2 linked regions of the Homo sapiens genome follow. The protein of the gene in region 1 interacts with the protein of each later gene in a pairwise test. Each region holds a gene or a part of one and is shown on either strand. Other genes may lie near its edges.

What was found.
Region 2: the proteins of TEX9 (region 1) and NOL4 interact in binary tests that used the Homo sapiens proteins (3 or more experiments, as listed by UniProt).

Annotation. Positions count from the first base shown.
Region 1 is NC_000015.10:56,389,405-56,396,432, reverse strand, and holds part of TEX9 (testis-expressed protein 9), read right to left. Parts: intron 5,191-7,028; coding exon 5,015-5,190; intron 2,269-5,014; coding exon 2,186-2,268; intron 1,773-2,185; coding exon 1,599-1,772; intron 1-1,598.
Region 2 is NC_000018.10:33,955,891-33,962,918, reverse strand, and holds part of NOL4 (nucleolar protein 4), read left to right. Parts: intron 1-4,500; coding exon 4,501-4,680; intron 4,681-4,789; exon of another isoform or gene 4,790-4,899; intron 4,900-5,401; coding exon 5,402-5,593; intron 5,594-7,028.

The DNA.
Region 1 (7,028 bases):
TTTTGGGGGGCTGATGGAACTGTTCTATGTCTCAATTATAGTGATAGTTATATTACTGCATACATTTGTCAAAACTCATAGAATTGTACACTAAAAAGTGTGAATTTACTGCATATAAATTTTGTCTAAGTGATTTTGATATTAAAATTTATTACAAGATAAAGCTAATTATACAAGACCAAAATGTTTAAAAAGCAGGGTTTTTAAATATGACCATACAAACGAGAAATGTAAGGGTACTAATAAAGGGGGCACATTTTCTTACTAAATCTCGGGATATGCTATATTACATAATTCTTATCGTCACTACATTTTACAAAGCAATCTCAAACAGTATATTTTTATTTTCACAATGGCACACTAATATAAGCTAGGATAGTTTATTTAAAATACATTCTCCCCTTAAATATGACACCAAAAGCACAGGAAACCAAATAAATATTAGATAAACTGGACTTCATCAAAATTTAAAACTTTTGTGCCTTTAGAGTACCATAAAGAAAGTGAAAGACAACCCACTGTAGGGGAAAACTATTTGCAAAATATACCTGATAAGGGACTTGTATCTAAACACATAAAGAACTTAAAAGTTCTTATTATTCAGTAATTTTTTCAAATCCAATTTAAAAAATGGGCAAAGACCTTAACAGACATTTCTCCAAAGAAAATATACAAATGCCAATAAGCACATGAAAAGATGTTCAACATCATTAGTTATTAGGGAAATGCAAATCAAAACCACAATGAGGTAACCCTTTTACACTTGCAGTATGGCTATAATCAAAAAGATAATCTAGCAGATGTTGGTGAGGATGTGTAGAAATTAGGAGCTTCATGCACTACTGGTAGGAATGTAAAATGGTACAGGCAGGTTGGAAAACAGTCAGCAATTCCTCAAAAGGTCAACATAGGATTTCCATATGACCCAGCAATTCCATTCCTGGCTATATAACCAAGAGAAATAGAAACATACGTGCACACAAAAACTTGTACATGAATATTCAAAGTATTTAAAATTGTCAGACAGTAGAAACAACCCAAATAACCTAAAGCTACGAACTGATAAACAGATAAATTAAATGTGTTATATCCATATAACAGAATGTTACTTGCCAATAAAAAGAAATAAAATACTGATAGGGGCTGCAACATGAATGAACCTTGAAAATATCTTAAGTAAAAGTCAGTCACAAAAGACCACATATTATATGATTCCACGTATATGTGATTTCCAGAATAGACAAATTTATTGAGACATAAAATAGAATAGTGGTTGCCTAGGGCTGTAAGGGATTGAGGGGAGCAGGGTCAGGGTGTGGTGGCTAAAGGGTATGAAGTATCTTTTAGGGATTATGAAAATGGTTGTGGTGATAGTTGCACAATTCTATGAATACACCAAAAGCCATTGAATTGCATACTTTAAAAGGGTGAATTACATCTCAATAAAGTTGTTAAAAATATTCTATGTAAGGGGAAAGAGTTTTCAGTAAATACTAATAAAATAACTGAACTGTCAAAATGGCATCTATACAAATGTGTAACCTTAATAATTTTCTTGTATCTGTGGCATTAAGTTAGGAAAAATACCAAATAATTACCCTTTCTACTGAAGACAACTGTTGCTGTAATCCATCATACTTTTTGTTTGCTTCTTCGAAAAGAGTTTTGTATTTTTCTACTTGAGACTGTTGCATATTAATTGTTCGCTGCTGTCTCATAAAATCTTCTTCAAAATTTTTTACTTGAGACTTTAAATTCTGAATTTCATCCTCCTATAGTTATAAAGTTATAGATTATGTGAAAAAATATGTAAGATTTGTTATCAAAACAAAGCAGAAAAAAAGACGTTTCATATGTTCTTTGATATTTATACACGTTTCATGAAAAACAAATTAGTCTATTTTTATCTTCAAAAATGGAAGTCAAATGTTTTATTTGCATTTAATAGCTTACACTACATTTGTAAGACTAATATAGAGAATTCTAATTGTAGCAAGAATTTAAGATATTTCAGCTCTGTGAAAATTCAACATCTCAGAATAAAGTTCAGTACTTATATACAATTTTTGAATTCAAAATTTAACTATGATTTATATCTAAATAAAGTAATTCAAAAAATGTAATTGAAATTGCTCCTAAAATATCTTTGAATATTAGAGCCTTTTAAGAGGTTTTTAAAACTTACCTTTTTATTGCATTCACATACAACATTATCCAATTCCTCCTGCATAACATGGAGTTTGGCCTTTAGAAATCTGATCTGTGCTTCTGTGAATTTAAATAATTATATTTACTGTCTTTTGCTGAATCTAAGATGACATCAATTGTAAGACAGACCATTACTTTATAAAGAAGAAAATACTCAAGATGGGGAGTCAAATAGGAGATATCTGTTAGGGGGCACTATAGGTACTCAACAGTCCTAATGAAAAGGTCAATGACGAATAAATCCACTCAACAGAAAGAAATCACAGGTAGTATTCACATAAGTTTGCAGACTAAATTCACACGCACCAGGGTGGTCCAAACTACATCAGATTATTTAAAGTGTTCTCAGGTCAGTAATGTCCCTGAGAGTTTGGCAGAAACAAACATAAATCTTCTCTAGCAAAACTCAGCTTCAGTGCAGCCACTGTGATTACAAAATGCCACTGACTGTAACACAGATCCCAATTTCTGAGCAGTTAAAATGTAGTATATGTGTCTTTGAAGCAAAGAAATACACTAATACCTTACTGTCTAAGCTTTCTCCCACAAACCTTCAGGATCTATCTTTGGTACTTTACTGCCAGCAAAAGTTCATTATTCAATAATATCAGCAGTAAATCTTTGAAGTTTATAGGCCCATAAAGTAAATAAAGTGAAAACTGAACTTAGAACTCACTCATAAGTCATTCAGTGATTTGTTCAAAATGGCATAGTAGGAATATTATAAAACAACCCTTACCATCATGGAATTTATCTTGAGGAAACACTTGGAACTGCTCTGAGAAGTCATTAGGACAAATCTCACTAAGCCATACACATGTGACGTGCAGAGCATAAAACATCTCCATACACACTTCCAGCTTTTTTAAGTGCCCTCAGTGTTATCATGGAGCTGATGAATTATGGTTGGCTCTAACCCTACCTAGGTCTCTTTGGCCTCAACTCTCCTACCAGCCTCTCATGTAACTCCAGGTGAGTAGGGAGTAGAGGGAAATGACAAATTAAAAAGGGTGAAGTTGACAGTAGTTGGCCTCTGAGGGAAAGAGGGAAGAAAAAATAGGAAAGCATGACTTTTCCCATTTCTTTTTCTCCCTAACTCTAACCTTAGTAACTCTACCTCAACTCTAACTCAAGGAGCAGAGTGCTCCCATGTCTGGAGGCCCACAGTACTAAACTCTGCTCCCCACTCGACCCTAGCTTTAATCTTACAAAGTAATCTGTGCTCCCAAATTACCTCTTGGTCTTTTTCTCCCACACATAACCAAACCATTCCAAGCAATCATCTAAAATAAGAGAAAATTCTCCCAAAAGAGAAGACACCTAGGCCAGTGATACTAAAAAGGGAACACAGGGAGGCAAAGTTCTAACAGGGCCATGGGACATGGGACCATGTTCCTCTACCGAGGAACAATCAATGCCTGTGCATCACATCCTCTAAAGCATCTTAGAGAGACCTAAAGGCAACTTACTGCTCCATTTACCTTCCCTTACCATAACTAGCCCTAGAAAGCTTGATTAGATCAGTAAATATAGTAAGTGCAGAAGAAAACTGCTCCCTACTTGTGATTAGTAACACAATAATTATTATACATATAAATTATGATTTTTCACAGAATCAGAGAATTTTAAAGATAAACTGATATGGTTTGGATCTGTGTCCCCACCCAAATCTCATGTTGAATTGTAATCCCCAGTGTTGGAGGTGGGGCCTGGTGGGAGGTGAATGGATCATGGGGGTGGTTTCTCATGAATGGTTTAGTATCATCCCTTTTAGTAGTGTCCTCATGATAGTGAGTTCTCATGAAATCTGGTTGTTTAAAAGCATGTAGCACCTCCCCCGTCTCTTGTTCGTGATCCCACCGTGTGAGATGCCTCACTCCCTGTTTGCCTTCCGCCATGATTGGAAGTTTCCTGAGGCCTCCCCAGAAGCAGAAACTGCTATGCTTCCTATACAGCCTGCAGTACCATGAGCCAATTAAACCATTTCTTTATAAATTACACAGTCTCAGGTATTTCTTTATAGCAGTGCAGGAACAGACTAATACATAAACTTAATGATCATCTAATACAAACTACTAAATTTTCAAATGAATAAACTGCTATTACAGAGGGGCTAAGTGGCTTGCCTGTAGTCACAATTAATTGTATTATAGTTCAGCAGTAACTAGTTCATATATACTCAATTGTCTTACTTTTTTGTTTCAATAGCATAGGAGGCTCCTCATAAATTTACTAATGTTTTCAGTTGATCAAAATTTAGTATTATTATTCTAGTGATATGCAAAGAATGAGTTAATAAGAAGAAAAATTATATTCATTAGAACACTCATTTGATTGTTTTACCTGATGCAATGTCAATTCATTTGTCCTTTTGCATGTGTTGATTTAACATGCAATAAATAAAATATATTAACAGTAAATGAAAAAATTCAGAAAAACTTTTTTAATATTTTAACAATAAGCAATGGGTATTTTAACTTAAGTTGAAATGTATTCAATCAAATCAGTACAATATAGTCTTTTTTATTTTTACTTTTTATAATGGAAAATATGAAACATAAAAGTAGGCGAGTTCAATGAACCTCATTTACCCACCACCTATCTTTAACAATGACTGACCCATGGCCAATTTTATTTAATCTATAATCCCATTCATTCCTCCCTCCACCACATCCTACTAGATAATTCTGAAACAAACCAAGACATCACAATACATTTTTTTAAATGGAAGAAATAGTTCCCCAAGATTTCTTCTTCTAAGTAACTGTGCTATAAAGATAAAAATAAAAAACTAAAGAAAATCTACCTGTTCCAATGTCATTACTAACACCAGAAAAAATATCATCTATATATTCAGGTAAGCCTTCTTCCTCCAGTTGCCCTTCAATTTTGCTAATTGTTTTTGCAAGGGAAAAGTCTGAGAAATCCTCTGGAATGGCAACATCGTCGGCAGTTTGGACATCAGAGTATTTCAATTTAACACTAAAAAATAAAAATTAAATACATATGTATGTATATACGTACATATGAACAAAATAGGAAAGGTAGACAGGATATATGCCTTTTACCCAAATAAGCAGATCAAAATTATTATAAATTTAAATTTATGATGAAATCTGTAATTGATATTTTTAAGGATTATATTACAAGAGACTACTATTACACATTTTAAATTTATGATGAAATCTACATGTGATACTTTCAAGGACTATATTACAAGAGACTTAGCAGATTTTTGGTTTTTATGAATCATGTGACCACAGAGCTAGAGAAGGCTTTATGAGGCCAGATGGTATAGACTTTGCTTCCAAATAAGGCAATACCAAAACTAAGAGTATTGCACTTGGCCTCCTAGGTCAAATCCAGCCTATGACTTTTAAATTTACACGCTTCTAGAGAAAAACTGTACAAACTGACATCATCCTGGCCATAATTCTACAAACAGCAAAGAAAAATACCCCTTGAGAAAGAATTACAGAGTGAAGAGCTAATAGCTCAATCAAACAACATTTTTTCCACCCAAAGAAACACATTCTTAACCACAATCAATACTAACCAAAAAGTTGGATGTGAATTTTTTTTAATGAAAAGGAGAAGACAGACAAAATCAAACTCATTTCTAAAGGCACTGAGGAATAGTCCAGGCCTAATTCATTGACACATCAACAAATTTATGGTTCTGAAAGCCAAGTTCACTTTTAAAACATAAGCAAAGGCTTCACAATTCATTTTAATTTTTTGTGGGTACACAGTAGGTATACACATTTATGAGGTACATGAGATGTTTTGATACAGGAATGCAATGTGAAATGAGCACATTATGGAGAAGGGGGTATCCATCCCCTCAAGCATTGTTTGAGTTACAAACAATCTAATTACACTCTTTATTTTAAAAATATAATTAAGTTATTATTGGCTATCGTCACCCTATTGTGCTATCAAATAGTAGGTCTTGATCTTCAGAATTCTATTTGAAAAATCAACTTTTTTTAAAAAAATGTGAAGTCTGAAAAGATAACCCTTTCCAGTTATATATGCATGTATGTGGCATGTATGTTCTTTTCTTCAATCTATTGTATAGTTAATTTCTGTTCCTTATCACTTCACTCTATTTTTTCCATCCCTTTTATTAAAAAAAAAAAGTTATTTAAACAATTAAGACACAAAAGTGAACAAAGATTTTTCCAGAATTACAATACAATGATCAGCCTGGGTAAGTAATAGACAAATAAATTTAATAACTTACTGAAGATGGTTGGTGCAACCCAATCCTCCACCTTTTCTAGAAGGCATCCTATCCTAGGGAGCATCTTGGGTCCCTTTTTATGCTTATAATACTAAGAACCGTCTTGAATTCTTTCTCACCCAAAACAACAAAATGTAAATTATAATTATATTATAGTCCTATTTAGAGCATGCCAAATCATTCTGTAGCTCAACAGACAAAATAATATATGCATTTTGTCAAATACTCAAAAACTACACTATTGAGCCTATTTGGGAGAACTAGGCAGAGATTAAAAAAAAAACCCAGTTGTAGTCACAGTTCTAAGAGAATAACTCACTAGAAATAACATTTATAAAAATTTTAGATTTAGCAATTTTGCTTAAGAGAACAATATAAAATATTTGTTAACTGCTGCAAAACATTCCTGAGTAGAAAATGTTCTAAATTACTGAATGTGGATAAGATATATGTGGTGTAACTTAATGTTTAGGGTGTAAAAAGATCTGGAAAAACAAACAGAGCTTAATAATTAAGAATGATGGTATTGTGAATTACAAAACTAAAAAAAAAGAAATACTTTGAAAACTATACT
Region 2 (7,028 bases), on another chromosome or scaffold:
ATTGCACGTTCTTTAAAACTTGAGTAAACAGGGCTATACATTTTTTACTGTTCCAACTGGTTCTGTGTCCATCAAACAGCTGCATTGAATGAATTAGCCCAGAATATTTGCATTCAAATAACCATATTGTAACATTTTTAAATATTTCACATTGCCATTCAAAATATATTATGCTTATTACATTTTAGATTTAAAAAGATAGACTTTTCAAACCTATGGAATATTTTCCTTAATATATTTTATTAGCTAATTCCACCTTGTTAATGATGTGAACTGTAAAGATATTATGCTGATTTTTAAAATTTAACTTTACTGTTAATGTCAGAGATCTGTTCTAGTTTTATTATTCCTCCACTGACTATATAGTTATGATATGTTAGTATGATCCTTAAAGCATGCTACACATATGTTATCATTGCATGGAGGCAGTTTTGAACACTGTCAATTTAAATTTTCCCTTCATAAAGGTTATTCACTATCATTTTACTTTGTTGGTAGATTCGAGAATATCTCCTGCTGCTTACAAAGATAGTATTATTCATTTGGCTGGGGCCATCTATATATTTGAATGATCATGTGTGAAATCTATATTGTTAATCTGGCTTCTAATGATTGGTGGCTGTGCCACTCCAGATTCAATCTCAGGTGACTGAAACTCAAATTTAAGCAAAATTTAAAAGCATGTGGGTGGGTGGAGGATGTATGGTATTATACAACTTAAGGGTCCAGGGCTTAATTTCAGTAATAGTGAGATCTAGATGCACAAATGATGCTATCACGACTCTATGCTCCTTAGCTCTGCTGGATTCAGCTTGATTTGACTCAGGCCAGCCATCTCACGTAGAGGCAAAGATGCATGCTTAGCATAGAGAAGGTTGGTACCCAAGGGATTGGCAATTTTACCTGGTAGAGCGAGGGGCCATTTCTGAAAGAAAAAGGTGCTGGGCCAGCAAACAAGTAGGAGATACCATAACAGGCCCCGTGGTTGGTCTTGGACACAATTATAGAAGTTAATGAAAATTGTCTGGATTGGCATTCATCTTCCTTTACACACTTGCCTTTCTCCTTCTACTTTGGCAATCCACTGAGATTCCAAAACTCAACATTTTCATTTCTTTTGCTAACTCCCATGATCCTCCAATGCTGAAATCCTGTGTAGTGTTACCAGCCCAGTGATGAATGGATGGCCTCTACTTAACTTCTCTACCACTCTTCTCAGTGTCGGAGGTTATCTCATCAAGTTAAATTAACTGAGCCTTAATGAAGTCATTGATAATGTGAATAATATAATTACTACTCAGGGTTCTCCAGAGAAACAGAATCAATAAGATATATAATATATAGAATAAAGTATTGGCTCATGAGATTATGGAGACTGAGAAGTGCCATGATCTGCTATCTGCAAGCTGAATATCCAGGAAAGCCAGTGGTGGAGTTCAGTTCAAGTTTGAAGCCCTAAGAACCAGGGGACTCAGAATTCTCAGTAAGTCTCTTAGCTCAGCAGTCAGGCAGAATAGGCAAATTTTCCTTCCCTCTGCTTTGTATTCTATTCAGGCCCTCAAGACACTGGATTATGCCCTTAGGCCCTCCCCTCACCCACCCTACACACACACTGTGAAGAACAATCCGTTTTAGTGAATCCACCACTTCCACTGCCAATCTCATCCAGAAGTATCCTCACAGACACACCTGGAAATAATGGATAGCCAAATACCTGGACACCGTGTCATCCTGTCAAGTTGACACATAAAACTAACTGTCAGATATATTAATATCATTTATTATTATTATGTATATATTTGAAACCATTTATAATGTAATATATTAATATATTAATACTAGTTCTTCTGTGAAGTTATTATGTCAAGGTTAAAGCTCCATGTAAATTTTAAGATGCTTCATTAATACAAAACATTATTAAATAGGCTCCAGCCCATATAAAATACATATATTCTATTAGATTGGCTCAGGGGAAATTCATAGTTAGATGTTAAATAATGAAATGGGTTTAATATGTCTTGTCACAGAGGTACTTCTATTTTAAAAGTTGGTGTCAAGAAATACAGTGCCTTAGGAATTGATTTCTACTGATATTATAACAATAACCTCATAAGTAGTCATGCTATAGAGACAGCATAGAATAGTGTTAAGATGATAAACTCAGAGCCAAACTGCATGGGTTCAGATCCTTTTTCACTTGCTAGCTATGTGACATTGGGAAAATCACTTAACCAGTTCATTGTAAATGAGTCATATATTTAAAAGGCTTAGAATAGTGCCTGATGCATAATAGCTGCCCATAAATACTTTGTTGAATGAAAATTGCTCTGTGGCAGAGTATCTTGGCACAAAACCAAATGTGTAGTGATACTTAATGTAAAGGTTTGCTGAGGGAAGAAATGATTGACTTTGAGATAGATACTTGGAGTTGGAGCAGGAGATTTTAGAAATTACTACTAACCATGTTGGTCTTAAAAGTTGTATGTTATTGCTGTTTATTAAGAGTTTATTCTCTTAAATATATATTTTTCCTAAAATAAATATATTCCAGAATATGTTTAGTCCTAAGTTGAAAAAAGAAAGCTTGTCACTATTTCCTTCTATAGATGTTTTGTATTTAAGAAACTGTAATTATCTGCATTTGATTACAATAGTGTATCTTTATTCTACTTTATCCAGCAAAACAAATAAGCAAAACTGTGTATGAAGCACTAATAAATTATTTAAATAGATTCTATTATATGTGGAAATTTTATAGCAAGTGATAATTCTTCTTACTCAAGATTTATAAATTGCAGCTTACTGTTCTATAAGAAAATGTAAATAATGTATCCAATTTATTTAGGTGGAATAGCAGTTTTAGGGGAAATCACTTATAAAATATTTTGTTTAAAGATTAACATGTACATAAACCAATGCATATTTTATGTTCTTTCAATTATACACACATGTGCATACACGCACACACACACACACACACACTTAGAAAGAAAAACTTCATATCGAGGAGAAAACCTTATGTGATCACTCTTAGCTCTTAGGCAGACCTAGGTTCACACAGTAGTTATATAATCTCATTCTTTAGATAAGAAGAGGTTGTTTAGATGTTCTAAAGCTGTTTCCTTATCTGTAGAATCTGGAGGATAATCCTTTCTCACCAGGTTGCTATGAAGCTTAAGGGAACCAATTGACTAGGTATGCAGTTGTTCTAAGTACTAATTTCTTCTCTTTACCTCTCACTTGCTTCATTATTTGCTTTATTGTATGTGATGTCTCAAAAAATATCTTTTATATCATGAAACAGAAATAAATAGAGAATACTCATTTTTAAATTTGATTACATCTTAGTTTAGTATCTTATCAAAACTACCTAGAATATGCTAAGAAGATTGATCAATGTTATGGTCTCAAAGAGTATATAAAATAGTTTGTGGTTATGCTGTACATGGCTGATTCAAGCTCCTTATCACACCATATACTTGGATTTTCTGTATTTCCAGGTCACTCTTCCAAACTTACTCTGGAATAATCCTAGAGGGTCCCAAGAGAAAATATTTGGAATAAGTGTAATCCCAAAATGAAAAGTGATCAAAGCCAGTTTATTTATTTTAAACAGCCCCATTAACATGTAGATATACTTATGCATTGTATTCTGACAACGGAGGCTCTACGAAGGCTATCTATCAGCTGTTTCATGTGAAAATGAACTGTTAAACATTTTCAATTTTTCAGATGTTTAATTATTTTTACATGGAAATATGTGTCACTATTATTTAATTGTTCTTGCTTTAAATTTGTTGTGTCTTTTGAATGGTGTTAGAATCCAGAAACATTAAACTTAACAGAGGATTAGGAAGAAACCCGGTTCCCATTTTCTAAACCCAAATCAGATGACCTCTTAAGACTCATAGACAATTAATACATTTATTTTAAAGCATGTTAACTAATAACTAATAGTCAATAATATTTTGTATAGCTCTTGCTGGGTAAGTTAATTGAACATCCCTCAGTTTCCATAACTGTTTAAAGAATACTAATAAAGTTAGCATAATACTGATATGATATAATACAATATTATATAAAGTGTAATACTAGTACTAATATTGACAATGCTCTGAGGTCATATTAAGTTCTAAGAATATGTGACTCAATGATTCCCTTGCAAAATCGATTACAGATTGCTTTTTTATTTGGAATATGAGTATTGAGAGGAAACACTAATTGCTCTTGCATAGCTAAGTTCAATAAAACTTTCTGCAGTGAAGGAAACGTTCCATGCAGCTAACAAGTACTTGCAATGTAACTAGTGTGACGTGACCAAGGAAATGAAATTTTAATTTAATTTGAATTAATTTTTATTTAAACTAAAATCACCACAGCTCTAGAGTTATCAACTCATAAACAAGATTTTTGAGAAACAGTTGAAATTAAAGATGAAACATAAAACTTATAAGCTTGTGCAATGAATTTAAAAGCAGTTATTTCACCTTCTCTTTTCAGTCTCCTGCACATAGTTACTCCAGCTATGACTCTGGCAAAAATGAGAGTGTAGACCGAGGAGCTGAGGACCTCTCACTAAACAGGGGAGATGAGGACGAAGATGACCACGAGGACCATGACGATTCGGAGAAAGTTAATGAGACAGACGGCGTTGAAGCCGAGCGGCTGAAAGCTTTTAATGTGAGTCCTGCCACACTCCAAGTGTGGTTTAATTTTTACCACTTCACTTTCATGTTGTTGCTTGTTGGTAAATGTGGATATTTTAGAGACATGTTTGTTTAATTTACAGAAGGATTTAAAAAGTACATGAAACACTCTTTGCCAACCAGACACCAGAATTGCTGTGTTTTGTTTAGAATTTTAAAGCCAAATGTGAGCTGAAAACTGGAGTTGTGTTGTGTGAGTATGCATGTTTACCTAGTGGATGGAGGGGGCCTCAGCTTAGTCCTCGGAAGAGTACGCCCGTCATCTGTTATTTCTTTTGCTTTCCTAGCTTATCTAATTATGCATGACAAAAGAGTCAGTTGTTTGATTTCAGAGATTAGTCCACTGTGCAGTGTAGCAATGTAACAGTCGTATTCATCATTAATAGAGATTGTAAAGGGGTGCTCAATTGTCACAGTCTCTGTTATTTCCTGATTTTTTTCTACACGATAGTCTATTCTTTTCTGTATGTTTGTCTGTCTGTCTGCCTTTCTCTCTTTTTCTCTCTATTTTTTAATCCAACCATTTAGAAAGTCTTTAAAGAGTGTTTGCTTAAAATTTCTGGCTTTCCATTGCAAAGTTCTCCAGTGCATAAACCAGAAAACAGTATTTTCCTATCGGTAATCAAGACAGGAAGCTAGGAACAGAAGAGAGCAGCCCTCCAAACCCTTCTCCTCTGTCTCCCTCTTGCCAACAGATGTTTGTCAGGCTGTTTGTAGATGAAAACTTGGACCGAATGGTCCCAATCTCTAAGCAGCCCAAAGAAAAGATCCAGGCTATCATTGACTCATGCAGGCGACAATTCCCTGAGTATCAAGAGCGTGCCAGAAAACGTATACGTACTTACCTCAAGTCCTGCAGGCGGATGAAAAGAAGTGGTTTTGAGATGGTGAGTTTTGAATTAAAACACAGCCCTAGACTCCATCAAAATCCCACATGTAAACCATGACACTATTTTTTTTCCATCTTAGTGTCTTTTTTTATTTTTTTCCATAATGTCAGGTCAAAGGGGGTTTTGTTTGCTCGTTTGTTTTTTCCCCTTCTCCTTTTCATCTTCCTGAAGTATTTATTCTCTTTGTTTATTTAATAAGGAATATCTTGTGAGTCCAGTGCTCACAGAACCACGTGGTACCATGTCACAGAAAATAAAGGTGATATGAGTAAACACCAGTGAGAACCAGCATCTCGTTCATATTTGTTTTCTTTCTGTCGCTACTAAAGTGGGCATGAGGTTATTTAAGTTGTGAACTGAAGCACCAGTCACTGCTTGAGATGGCATGTAACAATGGCATTCTCTAAATCAAAAGGAAACAGATGGATCTACCTAGGAATACCATTTTCATATCAATGGTTAACAAATTGCAGTCCTTGAAAGTAAAGATCAGAGAATGAAAATGCTTAGGTGAAATATAAGGATTTGTTGTACTGGATATGTTTATTTGTGTGCTGGTGGATGGTACCAAGAGCTTTCATATTCAGGTGGATGTTATAGACAGATGAGATTATGTTGACATTAGATTACTGATAGGGTGGAGATTAGAAATCAATGATTTTTAAACTTTATTCTATTTCACCTTGCTCTAATTGTTACATCTAGAAATAACGCACACATTTACAATGTATGCCTTTCCCATTTTCTTATTTCCTATGTATGTGAGCAGTTTCGAAATTTTGTGAAACCATTTTTTTCTTGTCTTATTTGAGAAGGCGCCATAAAAGCCTAGGCTGTTAGTGTTTGTGATCTGTGAATCTAATTAGTTAGGTGTGATTGGGTAGGAATTGGTGTACATAAGAGAGGTTTCAGAGTATGTCTGTACCAATTATCTCAAATCATAAAATCTCCAGAGTTGGATATAAAAGGCCATGCTTTATGAAAGATAAATCTAATAAATCTAATGTTTGATCAATACTGTCTTCATTTTCATTAGATTTTAGAAACCCAATGAGTTAAGTAACCATTAAATTAATCTGTAGACAAATATATCAAATTGTTATTGAGTCTGTTGTGTGGCTTTGATGCTCAAATTCAGCAATTTCTCTGAAGAATATTTATTGTTCCAGAAGGTGTCCTGATCTTAAATTCATAGTAATAGAAAAGTCCATAAAAAGCACAGCTTTATGAACAAGGTAGGGCATCTCCAATAGGTGACATGATTTCTGTTTTTTGTTTCCTGAATTTGCATTATGAGACTCTTTCACCAAGGTGCATACATGTATTTCTGTAAAACCCAAATGACAATATTTAGGGAATATATAGGAGACTTTTAGTCCATTGCTCCTCTTGTATCCCAAGTTTTGCCACTGTACCTAGTTAAACCAAATAG